Linked DNA regions of Homo sapiens. The protein of the gene in region 4 purifies or fractionates together with the protein of the main gene of each other region. This does not show direct contact. Each region holds a gene or a part of one and is shown on either strand. Other genes may lie near its edges. The genes, in order: NNT, BCKDHB, HK1, POR and SQOR.

Region 1 (3,500 bases), on a different chromosome or scaffold from region 4:
CATGTTGCTCAGTGAGCTCAAAGAGGTACTATGTTTTTTATTTCCTTTGGTTTGCTAAGGTGGCTTTCTGGTGACTCAGAGAATGCTGGACATGTTCAAGCGTCCCACTGACCCCCCAGAATACAACTACCTGTACCTGCTCCCTGCCGGCACCTTTGTTGGTGGATATTTAGCTGCCCTCTACAGTGGTTATAACATTGAACAGGTAAGATGCTCTTTGTAAGTTTTTATATTTACCACAATATTTTCTTCTCTATTAGATTTAACATTGTTAGTTATCCTAATTCAAAGTATCGAGCAAATACAACTCTGTCAAGCAAATACAACAATAACCCTAGAAACATCTTGGTCAAACTGAGCATTCTCTTCCCCTAAGGATCAGGACCCTGGATTCTAGAGACAGATTTTTCTGGTAACTGAGTTTAAATATGGGTTTATGTCTTTGTTTTGATACATTTTTCCACATGTAAGAGGAGTTAAGGTTATCAGTATCTTCATTATGTATCTAGCTAGATTGCGGTGGATTTATAATGAAACAATACAAAATTTGAAAAATTATTATTAAGTACTATTAGTTCTTTTCCTATTCTTCCTCTACAAATCCAGCACATCATCTCTTGCTACTAAGAGATGTTATATATTCATAAAAAAATCCATAAAGAAAAGGATAGTTTAAACTTAATGTTGTATAGAAAAACAGAAATAATCCAGCTGGACTTTGAAAGTTCCAACTTGTAATATAACAGACCTTCAGCTTTGTTCTGAACTCTGTATTTTCTATTTCTTTTCAATGGCTGTCTTTTAGTTTCTTCTATGTTTCCAACCTGCAGTATTTATTGAATGAACAATTTTTTTTTTTTTTTTGAGAAGAGTTGGAGCAGTGAGTCAGAAAGACCTTAGTCTGAATTCCAGATTTCCAATTTATTGATCATTTGCCTTGGAGAAAATATGCAACTTCTTTAAGCTTTGATTCTGTCTTTTGCAAAATGAGGATAATGATTTTTCCCTCTTGTGGATCTCATGACACTGTGACAACACAAATAAAACATGTGGCAAAGCCCCTGGCACTTACCTCAGGGGTTGGCTCTTTTACAGCATTTGGTCAGGTTTAGTATTTTTAGATCCAGTAATGACTCCATTTAAATTTAGGTACTTTTATGTGTATTTGTGCATGATAGCAAATCCAGAAAAAATCAATTTATATAAATGGTATAAGTGCAAATACAATATAAGTATTTAATATGTTAATATTCCTAATTGGCAGGAAAATATATTGAAATCTCTAAGCTAATAGACCAAAGGTTTTAATAATCTCTCTCTCACTTTTCCTTTGAAAAGATCATGTACCTAGGCTCGGGTTTGTGCTGTGTCGGTGCCTTGGCTGGCCTCTCCACCCAGGGAACAGCACGTCTTGGCAATGCACTGGGCATGATTGGGGTTGCTGGAGGACTGGCAGCCACCCTCGGAGTCCTAAAACCGGGCCCAGAATTACTAGCTCAGATGTCTGGAGCGATGGCTTTGGGTGGTACCATTGGTAAGCACTTGTGGGCTTCTGCCTTCATGTGAACTCCAGTTTCTCAATATATATTTCTAAGGTCCATATTGATGAAATAATTAAATTTTGTTCATGGAAGTTGCTTCAGTTAATATTATTTTGGTGAAAATTCATTCCAGTTGGTGTAATTCTCATTCAAATACATTTTAGAACACTGAATAAATGCATCAACTGAGTCAAAATATCCTATACTCAATTCTTATCTTCCTTTACTGACTGTGTCCCGTTAGCTGATAATGGAATGGGGGATTGGAATCCTTATGTATGTACTATACATAAGCTAACTTTTGTTCTGCTGGGTATAAATAACAGCCAAAGATTCTGCTTCATAGACCTGTTAAAAATGAAAAAAAAAAAAAAAAACATGTGCCAGCAGAAAAACTACTGTTTTAATTTTATTCAGTTGTTTGCTGGATTGTTAAATTTTCAGGAATTTTTAGGCTGGGCATGGTGGCTCAGACTGTAATCCCAGCACTTTGGGAGGCTGATGTGGGTGGATCACTTGAGGCCAGGAGTTTGAAACTGGCCTGGCCAACATGGTGAAACCCCGTCGCTATTAAATATACAAAAATTAGTTGGGCATGGTGGCGTACAACTGTAATCCCAGCTTCTTGGGTGGCTGAAGCATGATAATCGCTTGAACCTGGGATGTGGAGGTTGCAGTGAGCTGTGATCATGCTGCTGCACTCCAGCCTGGGTGACAAAGCGAGACTCTGTCTCAAAAAAAAAAAAAAAATTTTTTTTCCAGGAATTTTTAAAGTTGATTGTTAAACACAGCCATTATTAAATACTAAATTACATAAACTTAAATGAATCAGAAACAAAGTTAATAATATTAAAAACTCGTAACTTTCTAATTAATTTACTAGGTTTTATTGTCTATGCTCTTGAGGTTACTTATGTCTATTGTATGTGTATAGAAGAAATACTATGTATCAGTGGGCTGTGGTACATCTCTTTCCAATTCTACATTCAATGACATCACATTGGTAGATTGAAATTTGACTTGGTAGCAGTATTGCAGTGTGGAAATAAGCAAACGCTACAAATCTGGGCTTGATTTATTGTTTTGTTTATTGTCCAGACGTGAGAAAGTGATGGAGAAAATGTTAATGATGCAGCTTAAACTTGAGATGTTTTGACTGTAGCTGTGACATTGTGAATAGCACAAATAATTGAGCAAATAATCTTCCAGTATTTGAAAACTATTATCAGATTCAGCAATAAAGTCATTCATATGGTTGATAAATGAGTGAAGTTCTCGCATACATTCTGTTGTTTTACTTTCGTCTTACTTATTAAAGCAAATAAAAATATCAAACAATGTTCCTGTTGGAAGTATGCTTGTTCATCAGTTGCAAACACTAGGTTGGCTACAGATGTAAGAGTTTAGCAAAGATCCATAAAAACATTCTTTGAAAGTCAATTTGTCTACATGGAATTTTCAGTAAAGAGCACTATTTCTTATTATTTGAAAATTGTGTGCTAGCCACCTTTATATCAGTTAAAGCTCATGTATTTGTATGTGCATGTATTTTTTTCCCCTGGAACTGGTTATTAAATGTTTCCCAGTGGAACACTGGCTTTAGGCCTCCTTTTATACTTCCTCAGGAAAGCTTTGACTCTTTTCTTGATAATCTCTGGGGAAAGGGACTTGAAGGAAAATGTTTGCTCTGTAGGTTCATGGCAGGAAAACCTTTAGACATGATCTTAGCAAATATTCTGAGCCCCACTCCTTCTGTATCACCTACCTATAGCCATGCAGTTCCTTCAGAGGCTCCTAATTTGGGTATTTACTGCCCAGATTTTTGCATTTCTTTACCTTGGGACTTTGCTCCCACCTACCCACCTGAAAACCAAGGTCTTCTTCATGTTCCAGGTGTTTCTTATGTGCTCAGGAGAAAGCACTGGCTATAGAGAAGAGGGCCTGGGTTGCAATGGGGAG
Region 2 (4,790 bases), on a different chromosome or scaffold from region 4:
TTGAGCCTGGGAGGCAGAGGTTGCAGATCACACCACTGCACTCCAGCCTGGGTGACAGAGTGAGACCCTGTCTCAAAAAAAAAAAAAAAAAAAAAAAAAAGAACTAAAGAAGGCTTCTCAGCATAACTGGGCAGTTTTATCAACTTCGTACTCAATTTTATTTTGAAATTCAGTTTATAATTTTCTCCCAGATTCAGTCATCTCTATATAACTTGGTTGGGCAGAGAAGTTCATAAAATGGTTTTCTCTCAGATACCAGTGGCTTCCTTTTGGCTTGGTAGAGCTGATTTAGTTTATCTTTTTGAGGTCTACAGTATTCAGCTTTGAAAAGTAAGGTGTTGTCAGTGACTCTGATTGATGAAGTGTTCATAGATCTAAGGTGAAAAAATACAATCTACTTTAAAATTTTTGGCCCTACTATTTTTTCCAAACCCCCATAAATTTGCTACTTTCTAGAAAATTGATCTGAGAACTTAATTCAGTTTAATAAAGTTTTATCACATGTAATAACAATTTTTAAGAACAATTTTAGATTTACAGAAAAAGTATGAACATAGTACAAAGTTCTTAGATACCACACACAGGGTTTGCCTTATTAACATCTTACATACATGTAGGATACAATTATTATAGTTAATAAACCAATATTGATACATTCTTATTGACTAATGTTCCTTCTTTATTACGATTTCTTTAGTTTCTAAAGTTTATTTTTTTGTTCCAAGATAGCTGATATGTTTTATACATTTATATTGCATTTATTCATCTGTGCAGTAATGTCATGGAGCCATATCATAAATGCTATTTCTGTTTTAAGTAATACAGAATTTAGAGAAACAAAAAATAAAATAAAGCTTTGCTACAGTGAGCTTCTTAAATTATTTTATGCACAAGTGTCACCTCAGAAAAAATGTCCTTTTTTTTTTTTCCTGTTCTGTATTTAGCGGAAGAAGTCCCTATAGAACCATACAACATCCCACTGTCCCAGGCCGAAGTCATACAGGAAGGGAGTGATGTTACTCTAGTTGCCTGGGGCACTCAGGTGAGTAGCATTGATCCCAACTGTTAAAACCTACGTTGTGCTTGGAAGCTCTCATTTTAAATCCTGATACATGAAAAATTGAAAACGATGTTTTCTTTATATCTCAGATTAAGTCTGGTGCTACTGATGCTAATTTCTTTTTTCCCTCAACTTTATTGGTGTGTAATTGACAAATGAAATTATATATCTTCAAGGTATATATGTGATGATTTGATATATGCATACATTGTGAAATGATTGCCATAATCAAATTAATTAATGGATCCATCACCACACATAGTTACTATTTTGTGTGTGGGGGTGGGGGCGAGGACACTTCAGATCTATTATTTTCCCTAGTCACTGCTGTATATTAGATCCTGAGAACTTCCTCATCTTATAACTGAAAGTCTGTGGTACGGATTTCTGAGTGAAGGTGAGGTGTCTATATATATTAAAATGTATATGCATGTGGTGGCCATAAATATATTACAACAATGTATTAATTAGAAACACATATCTTTTGGAATACATGTATACCCATGTTACTTTCGCTGCAAATGGCTATAATCTTTTTCATCACATTTCCTGCCATCTCTCATCATTACTTTGCTGCTCACGTGGACCCATCCACTGGTCAAGCCTCAAAATTCCATATCTTCCTTTTTTTCCAGTGACCCTCTCTGCTGATCCACTTCATTTTCCCCCCGACTTGCTGTCACTTTGCTCTACCTCCCAACTTTTTCTCTGGCCACGAACTCCTATCTCTTCTACTTTTCTCTCTCCTTCTTTTACAGATATGGTCAGTTTTAATTTTTCTGTATAAAGGAAATCCTTATTTTAGGAAATTTAGGGCAATGCAATATAAAGAAGATAACAAAAATAGTTTTCAATATCACAAGCTCCTACTCTCCTTTCCTTTTGATTTTTGGCATGGAGAGCTAGAGTCCTTATGGTTTCTCACCTTCAGTGGGGTAACTCTGCTGCTTGGCGAGTTGTATCCCATTGATATTGTCCTTGGTGGGTGTGGCAAACCTTTTTGCTATCCTTCTGTCCACTTTTTGATCCACATCTCTGTGGTCAGCTCATGACCTTACTTCTCTTTTTAATAGGGAGGTTAGAGTGTATTAGGTATTAATTCAGATAACTTGCTCTTCCTCTTGCTTCTAATTCTTTCCTTCTTCCCTTTGTCTTGAAGAAGAGGTGTCTGGTTTACTTAGCAACCTCTGCAAATCAGTTTCAGACTGCGTTCCATTTTACCTTCTCCAGGACTGTAGTCTATTAGCTAGTCCATCTCTCTCCTGCATCTTCAGTTTTCCATTTCTTGTTGCTCTTATTTAAAAAGTATGTTTCTCTTCACTATTTAAAGATTCCTTTCTCCTTAAATACGATTATGTCTCCCTCCTTTTAACACTGAACTTGAACAACTGTTTTCTAGTGTCTGTATTTAATTTCTTAAATTCATTATATTTTTGTAGCTGTGAGTTCTATTCCCACTAATTTACTGTTTTTGTCAACATTACTGATCTTCTAGTTGTTTAAATTCAGCTCTTATTCCTGCTATGGTATGTGATACTGGCTGCTATCCCTATGAAATCTTTTCCTCTTAAGTTTCTGCAATACACTGTCTCCTGGTTTTCTTTCTAGCTCTTTAACCGTTCTTTTTATCTCCTTTTTTTCTTTCCTTCCCTCCATTTTTCCCTCCCTCCCTCCCTCTCTTTCTTCCTTCCTCTCCTCTTGGTCCATTTTTTCCTTAAATGTTGGTGATTTTTACCCTTTACTTCTCCCTCTACATGCTTTCTACGTATTTGTATGACTTCATTTACCTTCTACATGCCATCTTTGTAATCAGTATCTGTGGTACTGACTTCTCTCTCTAAGCACCTCTTTCCATCTGTTTTCTAGACATCTATACTTGTTATTTTCGCAGAATATGGGCTTCAACATATTTAAAACAAATTTATAAATTCTCCATGCAGATCAGTTCCTGAGACTTTAAATACTGTCTCTAATAGTGACATCAGCATTCAACTAGTTTTTGAGGCTAGAACCTTTGTAGTCATTCTCTGCATATTTTTCTCTTTATTTCAGGTTCATGTGATCCGAGAGGTAGCTTCCATGGCAAAAGAAAAGCTTGGAGTGTCTTGTGAAGTCATTGATCTGAGGACTATAATACCTTGGGATGTGGACACAATTTGTAAGGTATGAATATAATGGTGATAGAATGTCATTTCCCTGAAACCTTTGGCCAAATATGTTGTATATTTGCAAATAATTCTTTTGAAATTGTGAGCTATGTGAGCATTTTCAATTGATTTAAAACTTTTAAATTTGCAGCATGAAAGAAAGTTGTATAAACAGCTTCATGCTCAAGGAAACAAATCACTATAGAATTTATTTTTCCTCCTGTAGTTTCCTTTGTTTAAAATATTACAAAATGGGGTCCTTTATGCAGTCACCTTGGGTTGAATTGTGTGAGTCATAGAGCATATCAAGGATGCCGAAGGCACCTGTGTTTTTGACTTCTTATTAGTTATGGTTCAGTAAGCTAGGTTTAATTTAGTCAGGTAAATTAAGTGATTTGGCTGAATTTTCATTTATCTTCTCTCCAAAAGTAATGGGGATGGATTTTTTAAAAACATAACTCTGTATATAGTCTTAATACTGTGGATTACAGTCTAAGGGTTATGTGGAGATTCTGGCTCCTCTAATTTACAGTTTCTATCTAAGTAGCCTCATGACCTTTGGCCTGATTACATTGGTCTTGTTTTTACTATTAAGATTTACATAGCCAGTTCCCTCTTAAGAATATAGTTTAGCTCTCATTTACCTCTTTATATCCAGTATCTTTCACACCAATGCCAAGATAATTTAAGAAGCATCTATTTTCATATTGATACAAAGAAGGTTAAGCACTCTGTTTGTAATAGTCTTATCAATTAAGTCTAGCTACATGTAAATTATATGTACCTAGTCTTAATAGATAAGTACAATAGATATATGTACGATTAATAGATAGATGTACAATTACATGTAAAATTGTAGGAAACAATGACATGTATTATTTTTTCTTGATATACTGCTATAGTATAGGGCATTTTATATTTACCACTTTTAAGAGCTTTGGCATTTTCATAGCTTTTACAGGCTCTTTCTTGGGTTAGTTACATGAAAATAACCTGCAGATACTACTGTAAAAGTATAGCCTAGGATGTTTTTAGGTGAAGAGTGTTTTATAATTTAGTAGAAGATGTAAGATTTGTTATAGTAAATGTTTGTGAAGACTCACTTGACACCATCTAAACACTTGACATGCTTACAAATGATCCCGAGCCATTCTATTTGTAGTTGCTGTAATTAAGAGCAATATTTCAGATTGAGTTATTCATAGCTTCATGAAAATAACGCTTTTTGCAGGCATTTTCAAATCAAGTCAGACACCGGGTTTTCTTTCAAATAGCCAGACGTTCCAAATTATAGTTAAACTAGAGTTGTCTTCTTGTTTGCAACATATATCCACCACTTATCCTGGGGTTTGTATTTTTAGTGTAGATGGTGCTTTTGTATGGGGATATGATGTTTTATGATGGCGCAGTGCGGAGGGCATTCACATATGGTCAGGGCAAGCACTTTTAGAACTTTATTTACGTATCTATCTATATATATATAAATAATACCTTAAACATTCAAAAAGCATTTGTAGCAGCTTATTGTAAAGCACAAGTATACTAATACTTCATTTTGGCAACCGTGGAAGCAAAGAGAGTAG
Region 3 (3,500 bases), on a different chromosome or scaffold from region 4:
CTTCTATTAAAATAAACATAACCCTGCCTGGACGGGTGAACACATTGGCTCTTGGTTGAAAGTCAGCTAAGCAGGTGCCCTCTGGGTGATGTGGCTCAGACTCTCCATTTACATTTCAAATTTTTCCATTTCAAAATTGGGAAAGAAAAACTATTACTTTGTTCATCACAAAAAACGTGCCCCCTGCCTGTGGAACCTCAGGCCCCAGACCCCAGGCCCAGTTGCAAGACCCCCAAATGCAAGGCCACCGCTCCTCATTGCCCCCTCGTGTGTTCCAGGGACCGGCAGCAATGCCTGCTACATGGAGGAGATGAAGAACGTGGAGATGGTGGAGGGGGACCAGGGGCAGATGTGCATCAACATGGAGTGGGGGGCCTTTGGGGACAACGGGTGTCTGGATGATATCAGGACACACTACGACAGACTGGTGGACGAATATTCCCTAAATGCTGGGAAACAAAGGTAACCCCGCCTGGTGGAGAGGACACTCACAGTCAGGGTGGGGGCAGCACTTGGCTGCATTCTGCCACTTGCAGTGGAAGAAGTTTCTAGGAGGAGAGGTCTGAACAGAGGTTTCAAGACTGGACCCCCTGGCTCACTCCTGACCTTTGTCTTTTGGACAGCAGAGAACCAGGGAGGACAGACCCCCAACATGGTACAAGATGGCCCAGGGTTGATGCCTGTCTAGGGGCTGCCTGTGACTGTTTTTTAGCCTGGAGGATTCTGGCCTTCCGGTCCCCTTGCTGTGTTCCTTTCCCATCAGAATAACAAGGGGGTGGGGTGAGGGTGGCTGGGCGGCAGGTTGGTGTGAAGCAGAGGCCCTGTCGCAATCGTCCTTTCCTCCGTGAGCCTCCTGCACCACCTAGTGGCCTTGTGGAGCTTTGCAGCTCAGGTCTCAGGTACCATGTCTGAAATGGCAGTGTCTGCCCTTTGTCTCAAGCCCCCAGGAATCAGGCCATCCTCTGCCACGGCCAGGATGAGTTGGTCCAAGTTGTCTCCCTAGGAGCAGAAAGAAGGGCTGGAGCAGCACCCAGCATGAGTCACTCCCTAGCCCCCTCAAGGTTTTTGCCTTTTCTAAATACCACCCATGCTGTTATTTACTTAGTGCTTTTCTTCGAATCAGCTTACAGTTTTTTGTTTTTCTTTTTGTTTGAGGTGGAGTTTTGCTCTTGTTGCCCAGGCTGGAGTGCAATGGCGTGATCTCGGCTCACCACAACCTCCACCTCCCGGGTTCAAGCAGTTCTCCTGCCTCAGCCTCCCCAGTAGCTGGGATTACAGGCATACACAACCATGCCCAGCTAATTTTGTATTTTTAGTAGAGACGGGGTTTCTCCATGTTGGTCAGGCTGGTCTTGAACTCCCGACCTCAGGTGATCCGCCTGTCTAGGTCTCCTAAAGTGCTGGGATTACAGGTGTGAGCCACCGCAACCAGCCCTTATAGTCTTTTTCTTTTCTTTTCTTTTCTTTTTTTTTTGAGACAGAGTCTCACCCTGTTGTCCAGGCTAGAGTGCAGTGGTGCGAGCTCAGCTCACTGCCACCTCCTGGGTTCAAGTGATTCTCCTGCCTCAGCCTCCCAGGTAGCTGGGATTACAGGTGCACGGCACCACGCCCAGCTAGTTTTTGTATTTTTGGTAGAGACCAGGTTTCACCATGTTGGTCAGACTGGTCTCGAACTCCTGACCTCAGGTGATTGGCCCGCCTCAGCCTCCCAAAGTGCTGGGATTATAGGCGTGAGCCACCGTGCCCAGTGGCCTTTAAGGTCTTTACTGACATTTAATGAAGGAGGAAAAAGAGGAAGAACCAATAGTACCATAAAGAGATGGTAACTAAAAAATGAGTATAGTGAAGAACCGTGCTATTCAAGTCTAGCTGATGCTGTCGCCTACCAAATGACCTGAACTAAGACCCCCTTTGGGCTGAGTGCAGTCTATCATCAAAGTAATCCCAGCACTTTGGGAGGCCAAGGTGGGAGGATTGCTTGAGCTCAGGAGGTTGAGACCACCCTGGGCAACATAGGGTTGAGACCCTGTCTCTACTAAAAATTAATAACAATAATAACAACAATAATAGTAAGACCCCCTTGGTTAAAAAGCGGGGGGATCAGCAAGTGTTGGAAGGGGTTAAGGACATGTCAGCACCAAACTGGGGTGGTCTTTGTGGTGGAATGAGAAGGACTGGGTGGGACTTCGTAGTGGTGGCCCACCCCTCTGTGATTCCATTCTGTTTCATGTTCTTCCATGGACCACATGAAATAGGAGGAATCCTGGAGTTCCAAATTCCAGGGGACTCTTCTCAGCTTTGGGACACTGGGCTTGGGCATGTGCCATGGAAATGAATCAATCCTTTGTTATTTCTTGAGATCCTTGAGCATGGAGAGGGCAGGAAATTTGAAGTCCCAAGAACAGGTTGACCTCCAGTGTGTTGTGGTCACTGAATTCTCCCTCCTGTGTGGCCTCATCACTCTGCTGTGGGCTTGACCAGTACTCTGGGTATTTGCAAAACCTTTAGAAAAATCTAGAAACTTTCCTTTTTTTTGTCTTCTTGTTCCTTTAAGACTTAGCCCAGTCATTTGCTTATTCTGCAGATAGTTTTTGGGCACTTTCCTGAGGGCCCAGTGCTATGCTATGCTGTGCTGTGCCCTGGGGACTCAGAGCTGAAAAAGACACACATGCCCTGTCCTCTTGGGGCTGTCACTACAGCAGTGGTGGTGGGAGGCAGTGAGCTCAGGTGTGTTGTGAAGGAGGAGAATGGTGAGGTGTGTGGGAACCTGAAACAGGCAGGTAGAACCCAGGATCAGGAGGAGGACAGGCTCTCGGGGAAGTGACCTTGGGGCTGAGAGCTATCAGGCAGCTGAGGAGGGAGACCAGTCTAGCAGGTAGACATGAATGCTGGTGGTTTTGTTTCTGATGTGAGAGAGTGGAGGACTCCCTGGTCCTTCCTGGTCCTCCCACTCTGCCTCTGCGGCAGAGCACAGGGCTGGGCACATGGCTGTTGATGATGCGCTTGAGGGGCAGTAGGAGACGCGGAGTGACCGTGAGACCGAGGGGTGACAGTTCTCCTGGCCACTTCCCATAGACACCCCAGGCCCCTCCTCCTGTCTCAGGTATGAGAAGATGATCAGTGGTATGTACCTGGGTGAAATCGTCCGCAACATCTTAATCGACTTCACCAAGAAGGGATTCCTCTTCCGAGGGCAGATCTCTGAGACGCTGAAGACCCGGGGCATCTTTGAGACCAAGTTTCTCTCTCAGATCGAGAGGTGAGTGGGCAGTGTCTTCCCTGCCAGCGCCCACCCTTCAGAGGTCGCCTGGCTGGTGGATTGTGATGGGGGTGGTAGGGACCCTAGGGGACATTTTGGCCATTTTTGAGGATTTTTTTTCCTCTGGAATAGCAGACCCTGGGCATTTGCATAGTGAAATCTTATAATTTTATTATAAATTACTTTTCTTGGCCTGGTGTGGTGGCTCATGCCTGTAATCCCAGCACTTTGGGAGGCCGAG
Region 4 (4,790 bases):
CCTGGACCCTGGTCTCTTTATCTTGAGTACTACTACGCTTTTTTATCAAAAGTACTATTCCACACCAGCAATGCCCCGTGTACCAGCCCTGGACAGGATGGGCTGGATTCCAGCTGATCTGCCCTTCCTATATCGGGCCCTCTGCTCTAAAGTCCTTTCAGCTTCAGGGTGTGGCTCTACCTTTAAGAACCTGCCCAACACCCCTCCTGCAGGACTTGGTCTGATCCCCACACCAATTCCTTCTCTCTTAGAGCTGGCGGAGCCTGTCTCTCCAGCCTGTGCCCTGGGCACATCCCATAACCTCTCTGAGAGCAGAAATGAGGCAACCCACGCTACCTAACGCACGGCGCTGTTGCAAGGAGGCCCTGATTAGACAATGTAGGTTAAAGCAGTTCACAAAGCATTTCTAAAAAGTACGCTGTGGCCGGGTGTGGTGGCTCACGCCTATAATCCCAGCACTATGGGAGGCAGAGGCAGGCAGCTCACCTGAGGTCGGGAGTTTGAGACCAGCCTGGCCAACATGGTGAAACCCCGTCTCTACTAAAAATACAAAAATTAGCCAGGCGTGGTAGCATGTGCCTGTAGTCCCAGGCACTCGGGAGACTGAGGCACGAGAATCGCCTGAACCCGGGAGGCGGAGGTTGCAGTGAGCCGAGATTGCACCACTGCACTCCAGCCTGAGTGACAAGAGCAAAAGTCTGTCTCAAAAAAAAAAAAACTATGTTGCAACACCCTCATTTTCCAGCTTAACATAAATGCTGGCTCTGTGGTCCTGATCGTGCCCGTCATAGTGCCTGGCACGAAATACGATCAACGCAAACACTACACAGCTCCTATCCCTCAGGGGCAGTGCTAGGTGAGTTTATAGACTCTTCCTCATTTAAGACAAAAGCCCCACAAGATTGGGAATACTGCCTCCATTTAGCAGGTGAGGAAACTGAGGCAGAATGAGGTTAAGGTCTCGCCCAGGGTTCACTCACCACTAGAGCGTAAGCTTGATGAAGACAGCATTCATCTATTTTCTTCACTGCTGCAGCCACACACCTTAGCATAGTGTCTGGGACACTGTAGGTAGGGCCTCAGGAAATGTTTGCTCAGTGAGTCAATGATGGAGATAAGATTGAACCCAGTTTTGTTTTGTTTTGTTTTGTTTTTGAGACGGACTCTGTCTCCCAGGCTGGAATGCAGTGGCGCATTCTTGGCTCACTGCAACCTCTGCCTCCTGGGTTCAAGCGATTCTTCTGCCTCAGCTTCCCTAGTAGCTGAAATTACAGGCATGCACCACCACGCCCAGCTAGTTTTTGTATTTTCGGTAGAGACGGGGTTTCGCCATGTTGGCCAGGCTGGTCTCGAACTCCTGACCTCAAGTGATTTCTCCCGCCTCGGCCTCCCAAAGTGGTGGAATTACAGACGTGAGCCGCTGTGCCTGGCCCTGAACCCAGTTTTTAAAAATGTAAAACTAATTCCCTGTCCATGGTATAAGAACTGTGTTGTGTGAATATCTGCTTTACGGTGTGAAGGCTGTAAGTGTTCTGGCGGGGAAGGCTGATACCCAGATTGGAATAGGGAATCGGGATTTGATGTGAGCGGCATGCTTCACCATGCCCAGCCTTGGAGAATGACTTTTCTGTGTGGCTTGTTCCTGCCAAGACAGCCACAGCCTTGGACTGGAACTGACATGACAGATGGCCCCCACTGGTGTCAGCACCAGCCCAGGGTGGCCCTGGGGTGCAAGCTAAGGCTGCAGCTGGGACTGGGTCCCCTGAAGACAGACAGAATGAAAGGGGTTCTGGTCTGAGAATGGCTCCCAATCCTGCCCCTGAGACCTGCCCCTTGCCAAATCCAGGGAGTCCCTGAAGGCAGCAGGCCCGTGCCCCTGGAGTTCCCTCGGCTCAGACCTGACCTGGCAGGTCCCCACTCAAACCTGGCTGCGGGCCCCTGGAGTCTGAGACTGGTGTTAAACACAGCCAAGCGTAACCGCAGGAAGTAATTCTGGCCGCAGGACCCTAAAATCTGGAGAATGACTTTTCCGTGTGGCTTATGGAAATCAATCTTGGAGAGACAGGGATGCAGTCACTTAGGCAGACCTTCGGTATCATTTTTTTCTGTCTACATACCATCTATACTATTATTTCCTTAACGTTTTTCTTTTAACTAATCCATCTTTTTCACTTATTCTTAAAAGGAAGCTTCATGAAAAGTTTAAAAGAGCAACAAAATAAGGCCTGTCCAAAGATTTTGTGCTCATTAGCACATAGCCTTCCAGGTGGCTACAGCCTTAAAAAGACTTTAAAATGCCAATTCTAGGCTGGGTACAGTGGCTCACGCCTGTAATCCCGACACTCTGGGAGACCAAGGTGTGCGGATTGCTTGAGTCCAGGTGTTCGAGACCAGCCCGGGACATGGCAAATCCCTGTCTCTATAAAAAAATACAAAAATTGACTGGGCGCAACGGCTCACACCTGTAATCCCAGCACTTTGGGAGGCCGAGGTGGGCGGATCACTTGAGGTCAGGAGTTTGAGACCAGCCTGGCCAACATGGTGAGACCCTGTCTCTACTAAAAATACAAAAAATAGCCAGGCGTGGTGGCGGGCACCTGTAATCCAAGCTACTCAGGAGGCTGAGGCAGAAGAATTGCTTGAGCCTGGGAGGCAGAGGTTGCAGTGAGCCGAGATCGCACCGCTGTACTCCAGACTGGTTGAAAGAACAAGATTCTGCTTCAAAAAAAAAAAAAAAAAAATTAGCTGGGCATAGTGGTGCACACCTTTAGTCCCAGCTACTCGGGAGGCTGAGGTGGGAAGACTGCCTGAGCCTGGGAGGTGGAGATTACAGTGAACCTTGATCGTGCCACCGCCATTGCACTCCAGCCTGGGCAATACAGTGAGACCATGTCTCCAAATAAATAAATAAATAAATAAATGGAAAAAAGGGTTCCAGCTCTAGCGCTGCTATTGCTGGCTAATGACCCTGGCAGGCCCGTTAACATTCTTGAGCCCCCGGTTCTTAATCTGTAAACTGGTGTCATTTTCGCAGTGCTTCCTGTGAAGGTCATATAAACAGCAGATAGAAAAGGGCCTTATAAACCCCACATAAGAGATGATTAAGGGAGAGCTCAAGCACAATCTAGCAAGAAGGCAAAACCCAAGAGTCACCCCAAAATGCTACAAGGAGCCTTGCTTCTTTCAGCCTGAGGCCCGCATGCAGGACACTGCTTGGAGTGGTGACAGAAGAGGGACAGAGAGAGGAGGCTGAGAGGCGGCACTTACAATGTCTGAATTTTGGTGAACTCGGGGACTTCTTCTTTTTTCTTTCTGAAGAGGAACCAGTAGGTTAGGAGACCCACGATGAGCGAAAACAGAATCATGTCCGTCATGCTGAAAAGAGATACTTCTTCGGCCACCGCCTCGGACACGGTGGAGCTGGTGTCCACGTGGGAGTCTCCCATGTTGATCATGAAACTGTTAGGAGACAGAAACAGCAGATGTCAGCAGAGGGTAGCAGGGTGCCCCTGAGGCTGGCTGGGGTGCCCACCTAAATGCTGGGCCTTGCCCCTGGGGCTGCAGGAAATGGTCACTGCACGGGGTAGGAGAAGGGGCTCACTCAGCCAGGTTCCTGCCAAGACAGCCACAGTCTTGGACTGGGGCTGACATAACAGACAGCCCCCAGTGGTGTCAGCACCAGCCCAGGGTGGTCCTGGGGTGCAAGCTAAGGCAGCAGCTGGGACTGGGTCCCTGGAAGACAGAGAAAATGACAGCCACTGACTCTCAGTGTGCTGGAACATCCTCTAATCCCACAAGGACACCGCACGGGGGGCAGGCGGGAGGAAGTGCACGCAAGAGTGGACCATTTCGCAGCAAACCCTTTCCCCAGCTGTGTGGCTGGCGGGGGTTGCCCTAAACCCTGCATGTTCCAAGTCTCCAGGCCTGGCCCTTGAGTGGCTCCTGATATTCACGAGCCTTGGACTATCCTGACTGGCAAGAGTGTCTCTGTATTCCTAAAACCTTGGGCTATGAAGGTAGTTCCTGTTAACAATGAGATTTATGGTGAATGCCTGCTTTCCTATGCCTGGGAGTCTTTTTTTTTTTTTTTTAAGAGACAAAGTCTGGTCCCTCCCCCTCCCCCTCCCCCTCCCTCTTTCCACGGTCTCCCTCTGATGCCCAGCCGAAGCTGGACTGTACTGCTGCCATCTCGGCTCACTGCAACCTCCCTGCCTGATTCTCCTGCCTCAGCCTGCCGAGTGCCTGCGATTGCAGGCGCGCGCCGCCACGCCTGACTGGTTCTCGTATTTTTTTGGTGGAAACGGGGTTTCGCTGTGTTGGCCGGGCTGGTCTCCAGCTCCTAACCGCGAGTGATCCTCCAGCCTCGGCCTCCCGAGGTGCCGGGATTGCAGACGGAGTCTCGTTCCCTCAGTGCTCAATGGTGCCCAGGCTGGAGTGCAGTGGCTTGATCTCGGCTCGCTACAACCACCTCCCAGCCGCCTGCCTTGGCCTCCCAAAGAGCCGAGATTGCAGCCTCTGCCCGGCCGCCACCCCGTCTGGGAAGTGAGGAGCGTCTCTGCCTGGCTGCCCATCGTCTGGGATGTTAGGAGCCCCTCTGCCTGGCTGCCCAGTCTGGAAAGTGAGGAGCGTCTCTGCCCGGCCGCCATCCCATCTAGGAAGTGAGGAGCGCCTCTTCTCCACCGCCATCCCATCTAGGAAGTGAGGAGCGTCTCTGCCTGGCCGCCCATCGTCTGAGATGTGGGGAGCGCCTCTGCCCCGCCGCCCCGTCTGGGATGTGAGGAGCGCCTCTG
Region 5 (4,790 bases), on a different chromosome or scaffold from region 4:
AAATTAATGGCCAGGTGCAGTGGCTCATGCCTGTAATCCCAACACTTTGGGGGGCCAAGGTGGGCAGATCGCTTGAGCTCAGGAGTTCGAGACCAGCCTGGGTAACGTAGTCAAACCCCTCTCTACCAAAAACACAAAAAATTATCTAGGCATAGTAGCACATGCCTGTTGTCCCAGCTCCTCAGGAGATTGAGGTAGGAGGATGGCTTGCTTGAGGCTGGGAGGTGGGGGTTGCAGTGAGCCAAGATGGCACCACTGCACTCCAGCCTGGGTGACAGAGCAAGATCCTGCCTCCAAAAGAAAAAAAGAAATAAAAAGAAATTAACATTGGGCCAGGTGTGGTGGCTCACACCTGTAATCCCAACACTTTGGGAGGCCAAGGTGGGCAGATCACTTGAGCCCAGGAGTTTGAGGCCAGCCTGAGCAACACAGCAAAACCCAGTCTTTAAAAAAATACAAAAATTACCCGGGCATGGTAGTGCATGCCTATAGACCCAGCTACTCAGGAGGCTGAGGTAGGAGGATTGCCTGAGCCTGGGAAGTAGAGGCTGCAGTGAGCCATGAGCCACGGTTGTACCACTGCACTCCAACCTAGGTAACAGAGTGAGACCCTGTCTACAAAAAAAAAGAAAGAAAGAAAAAAACAAACAAACAAACACTGGCACTTAGTTGTAGCTTGTTCATTATCTATCATTTATTTCTGTAACTGTATAGGATAAATAACTTGGTCCTCCTTCATTAACATACATAGTCCAATCAGTGTGGTGGTTTTCAAACTTTAATGTTTATTAGCAGCATTGGGGAGACTTGTGGAAAATACAGGTTCCCAGGCTACACCATGCCAAGATCCCAATCTAGTAGATCTGGGTAAAGCACGGGAATCTGTACTTTAAAATCTGCTAGTGATTCTGATATGTAAAATCTGTGGATCACATGCTTACAATCTCTGGCTTGAAGGAACAGGTTCATTTACAAAGAAAAATAGAATGCTATTATTTGGACAAGTCACTTCATCTCTTTGGTCTTTAGTTTGCTTATCCATAAAGAAATGCACTAGACTAGACAATCTCCAAAGTGTCTTCTAGTTCCTCCGCCTCCCAGGTTCAAGCAATTCTCTGCCTCAGCCTCCCAAGTAGCTGGGATTACAGGCTCCTGCCACCATGCCCGGCTAATTTTTGTATTTTCAGTAGATACAGGTTTCACCATCTTGGCCAGGCAGGTCTCAAACTCCTGACTTCGTGATCCACCCGCCTCGGCCTCCCAAAGTGCTGGGATTATAGACTTGAGCCACCACGTCCGGCCCAATTCTTCACACCAGTTGTTTTCAATCCTGGTTGAACATTAGTCATTAGGGGAATTTTTGAAACTCCCCATCCTCAATCTGCACCCCAAACCAATTAATTAAAACCTCTTATAAAGAGGCCAGGCATCAGCACATTTTAAAAGCTCCCTAATATGTAGCCAGGGTTAAGAGCCACAGCTTTACATCCTTCTGGTGGATTTTTTGAAATTCAGATTTTAAGAGTGGAACTAAATATCTGACCTGAAATCCTATAATTCAAAGGGGACACAAATATCTTCTTTAATTACAAACCCCTTAGAAGAATAATAACCATTCATTTATCCACACCCCTACCTACAACCTCAGCTATCCAGAGGACAGCTGGGAAACGAAGTACTAACAAAGTTAAGTTCATGCACTCAAGTTCATACACTTTGCTCATAAAAGGATGCTTCGGGCTCTTACTCATAGCTCATTTTAGTGAAAGCCCAACTTGGGCTCACTCAAACGGACTCTCTCAAATGGGCTCTTTTGTAAAGTAAAAATGAGTTCACTCATATGAGCTCTCACTCATAGCCCATTTGAGTGAGGCCATTTGAGGAGCAGCAATTTAAAAAAGCTAAAGCTGGAGGGACCTCCCAAAGTCACTAACAACGGCCTGACAGCCAGGAAAAAGGAAAACTACAAAAAGGACACACAAAAAACAAACAGCAGTAATTTGAGACCCTTTTATAAAGTGATAACTAGCTCCAAACATTCCAGTAGCCTCTGTGTGCATAACTACACAGGAGCTATTCAAAATGATGACCCTGAGCTGCTGCAGATAGATACTAGATGAGCCTGGGACAACCTGTGACACCAGAAAGTAAAGGAAGTGCTCAAACACATGATGGGGCATGTCACAGGGACACAAGAGCCAGCTGGAAGGGAAATCTACTGACCAAATCCAAAACAATTTGAGCACCATAATAATTAAAAACAATAATGAATGATAACACTGTAAGAAAAAATATAGGAACTCATGAGTTCATACCAATAGTTAATTAACTAAGAAGCAAAGACTCTCGCTGAAAGAATGCCAAGAGCTTACTGGTAAATGTGCAGGAAATGTCACAGTTAGCAAATCACCATTTTGCAACCACCATAGTAAAGATTTGATTAGGCAAGGATCATCAATGGATGCTAACTCTAGTGGGGAGACTTGAATGAGTAGACTATTTACATGGTTTTAAAGTGTCTTCCCACAGACTTCTTATTAGTAGCAAGGGAGAAAACAAATTGTAATTATCCCCTGGAAAAACTGGACCACATCTTGACTGCTGATCAAAATTAACATCACCAATGAAGGGCAGATGAACACTGTATGCTTGCAAATGTGATACCTTAGAATGGCACAATGCTTATGCAATGTTCCAGTCTAACAAACAGAGCCTGAGGCCAGGTGCGATGGCTCATGCCTGTAATCCCAGCACTTCAGGAGGCCGAGCAGGTGGATGGCTTGAGGTCAGCAGTTCGAGACCAGCCTGGCCAACATGGTGAAACCTCGCCGCTACTAAAAATAAAAAATAAAAAAATTAGCCGGGCATGGTGGTGCACACCTGTAGTCCCAGCTACTCATGAAGCTGAGGCAAGAGAATCGCTTGAACCTGGGAAGCAGAGGCTGCAGTGAGCTGAGATTGCACCACTGCACTCCAGCCTGGGTAACACAGCGAGACTTCGTCTCAAAAATAAATAAATAAATAAATACATATCAAAGCCTGAAACTAATCACAAGAAAACACTGACAAACTCAAAATGAGGAACATTCTACTGAAAGAAAAGTGGTGGGGGAGAGGGCTGTATTATTTCAAAATATCAACGTCATAGAAGACAAAGAAAAGCTATAGAAACATCACAGATTAAAGGAGGCTAAATAGACCTCACAATTGAATGTAATACCTGACTGTAGCCTGAGTCCTGCACTGGAGGAAAAAATGCTACAAACACAGTTGGGCCAATCAACTAAATTGGAATACAAATAGTAAGTTAAAAAATTGTATCTGTGCTAAATTTCCTGAGTTGATAATGGTACTGTGGTTATGTAAGAGAACACTTCTATTTTAGAAAATTAACACTAAAGTATTTGGGGCTAAAGAGAGCTGATGCATGATATATGTAAATTTCCTTGGAAAAACTAGATATGGATGGATAGATAGATAGACAAAGGCAGATAGAAGAAAGAGAGAAAGAAAGAAAGGAAAGAAGGAAGGAAGGAAGGAAGGAAGAAATCAAATGATAAAGCTAAAGCAAATGGTAAAATTCTACAAGTGAATCTAGGTAAAAGCTACATACAATTTTCTTTGTACTATTTTTATTTTGTAACTTCTCTAAGTTTGAGATTATTTCTTTTTTTTTTTTTTTTTAGACGGAGTCTCACTCTGTCACCCAGGCTGGAGTGCAGTGGTACAATCTCGGCTCACTGCAGCCTCCGCCTTCTGGGTTCCAGCGATTCTCCTGCCTCAGCCTCCCGGGTAGCTGGGATTACAGGGATGTGCCACCACGCCCAGCTAATTTTTGTATTTTTAGTAGAGATGGGGCTTCACCATGTTGGCCAGCCTGGTCTCGAACTCCTGACCTCAAGTGATCCACCTGCCTTGGCCTTCCAAAGTGCTGGGATTACAGGCGTGAGCCACCATGCCCAGCCAATCCCTGTTTTCTTCAACTACCCACAGGGTTACTTCCTGCTCACAAGCAGGACTGTTTCTCACATGCCACCAATTGAGACAATCACCAGATCTTGCATTCGAGGAAGCCCTCCCTTACCTCTACACAGTAACCAAAGTTGTGGAATATTTTTGGCTACCTCAAGTGACTCGATGCCAGGAAAAGTTGAGTCAAAGGAATAGGACAAAAATTCACTTGGCACCAGCTAACGACACCTTCTCACCTCCCACTGACACAGCCTCTTACATCTTTCTCTTCCCCAACCATTTTGGCCTACCTTCTTGCCCTAACACTTCCCTAAGATGCTCATTTCACCCAGTCTTCCCCAGCACACAATGATGGCAGATAGGGTGGTGTGAGCCCCCATGTATCTATGGCACGTTTCAGCAGACAACGCTTCATGCTGACAGCTTAGCCTCACCACTCACTGAAATCACTTGGGTCTCTCCTGGTTTGTCCAGGTTCTCAAATACAGCCTCTTGTTTATCGGCTCGGACTTCAATGAGGTTTTTCTTGTAGTTAACAGTGAGGTTCCGCTCCTGGATGATCTCCTGCAGGGCATCTGCATACTTCTTAACCCCGAAAATGGCTCCAAGAGAAGTGTTGAAAATGATATTGGCCTTGGATCGCTTCCCTGTCTGAGAAAAATAAGAAAACCATTCACACCAAAGCATGACTGCAGCTGCCTTTTTTTTTTTTAATCCAGACAAGAATTAAAACCCTCAGCAGGGACCTTGCTAGCTTTTGCCACCATTATGTCCTGGCAGAGCAATGGGTAGACCAATCCACTGCCTCCTCCTTATGT

The links.
Region 1: the proteins of POR (region 4) and NNT fractionate together in Homo sapiens (co-fractionation; one large-scale study listed by BioGRID). This does not show direct contact.
Region 2: the proteins of POR (region 4) and BCKDHB fractionate together in Homo sapiens (co-fractionation; one large-scale study listed by BioGRID). This does not show direct contact.
Region 3: the proteins of POR (region 4) and HK1 fractionate together in Homo sapiens (co-fractionation; one large-scale study listed by BioGRID). This does not show direct contact.
Region 5: the proteins of POR (region 4) and SQOR fractionate together in Homo sapiens (co-fractionation; one large-scale study listed by BioGRID). This does not show direct contact.

What each region holds. Positions count from the first base shown.
Region 1 is NC_000005.10:43,651,680-43,655,179, forward strand, and holds part of NNT (NAD(P) transhydrogenase, mitochondrial), read left to right. Parts: intron 1-59; coding exon 60-205; intron 206-1,338; coding exon 1,339-1,534; intron 1,535-3,500. UniProt on the Homo sapiens protein: The transhydrogenation between NADH and NADP is coupled to respiration and ATP hydrolysis and functions as a proton pump across the membrane. May play a role in reactive oxygen species (ROS) detoxification in the adrenal gland.
Region 2 is NC_000006.12:80,199,990-80,204,779, forward strand, and holds part of BCKDHB (2-oxoisovalerate dehydrogenase subunit beta, mitochondrial isoform 1 precursor), read left to right. Parts: intron 1-944; coding exon 945-1,042; intron 1,043-3,112; coding exon 3,113-3,223; coding exon of another isoform or gene 3,224-3,229; exon of another isoform or gene 3,230-4,790. UniProt on the Homo sapiens protein: Together with BCKDHA forms the heterotetrameric E1 subunit of the mitochondrial branched-chain alpha-ketoacid dehydrogenase (BCKD) complex.
Region 3 is NC_000010.11:69,391,847-69,395,346, forward strand, and holds part of HK1 (hexokinase-1), read left to right. Parts: intron 1-278; coding exon 279-462; intron 463-3,103; coding exon 3,104-3,259; intron 3,260-3,500. UniProt on the Homo sapiens protein: Catalyzes the phosphorylation of various hexoses, such as D-glucose, D-glucosamine, D-fructose, D-mannose and 2-deoxy-D-glucose, to hexose 6-phosphate (D-glucose 6-phosphate, D-glucosamine 6-phosphate, D-fructose 6-phosphate, D-mannose 6-phosphate and 2-deoxy-D-glucose 6-phosphate, respectively).
Region 4 is NC_000007.14:75,952,658-75,957,447, reverse strand, and holds part of POR (NADPH--cytochrome P450 reductase), read right to left. Parts: intron 3,460-4,790; 5' UTR 3,447-3,459; coding exon 3,268-3,446; intron 541-3,267; coding exon of another isoform or gene 487-540; intron 1-486. UniProt on the Homo sapiens protein: This enzyme is required for electron transfer from NADP to cytochrome P450 in microsomes. It can also provide electron transfer to heme oxygenase and cytochrome B5.
Region 5 is NC_000015.10:45,675,934-45,680,723, reverse strand, and holds part of SQOR (sulfide:quinone oxidoreductase, mitochondrial), read right to left. Parts: intron 4,624-4,790; coding exon 4,414-4,623; intron 1-4,413. UniProt on the Homo sapiens protein: Catalyzes the oxidation of hydrogen sulfide with the help of a quinone, such as ubiquinone-10, giving rise to thiosulfate and ultimately to sulfane (molecular sulfur) atoms.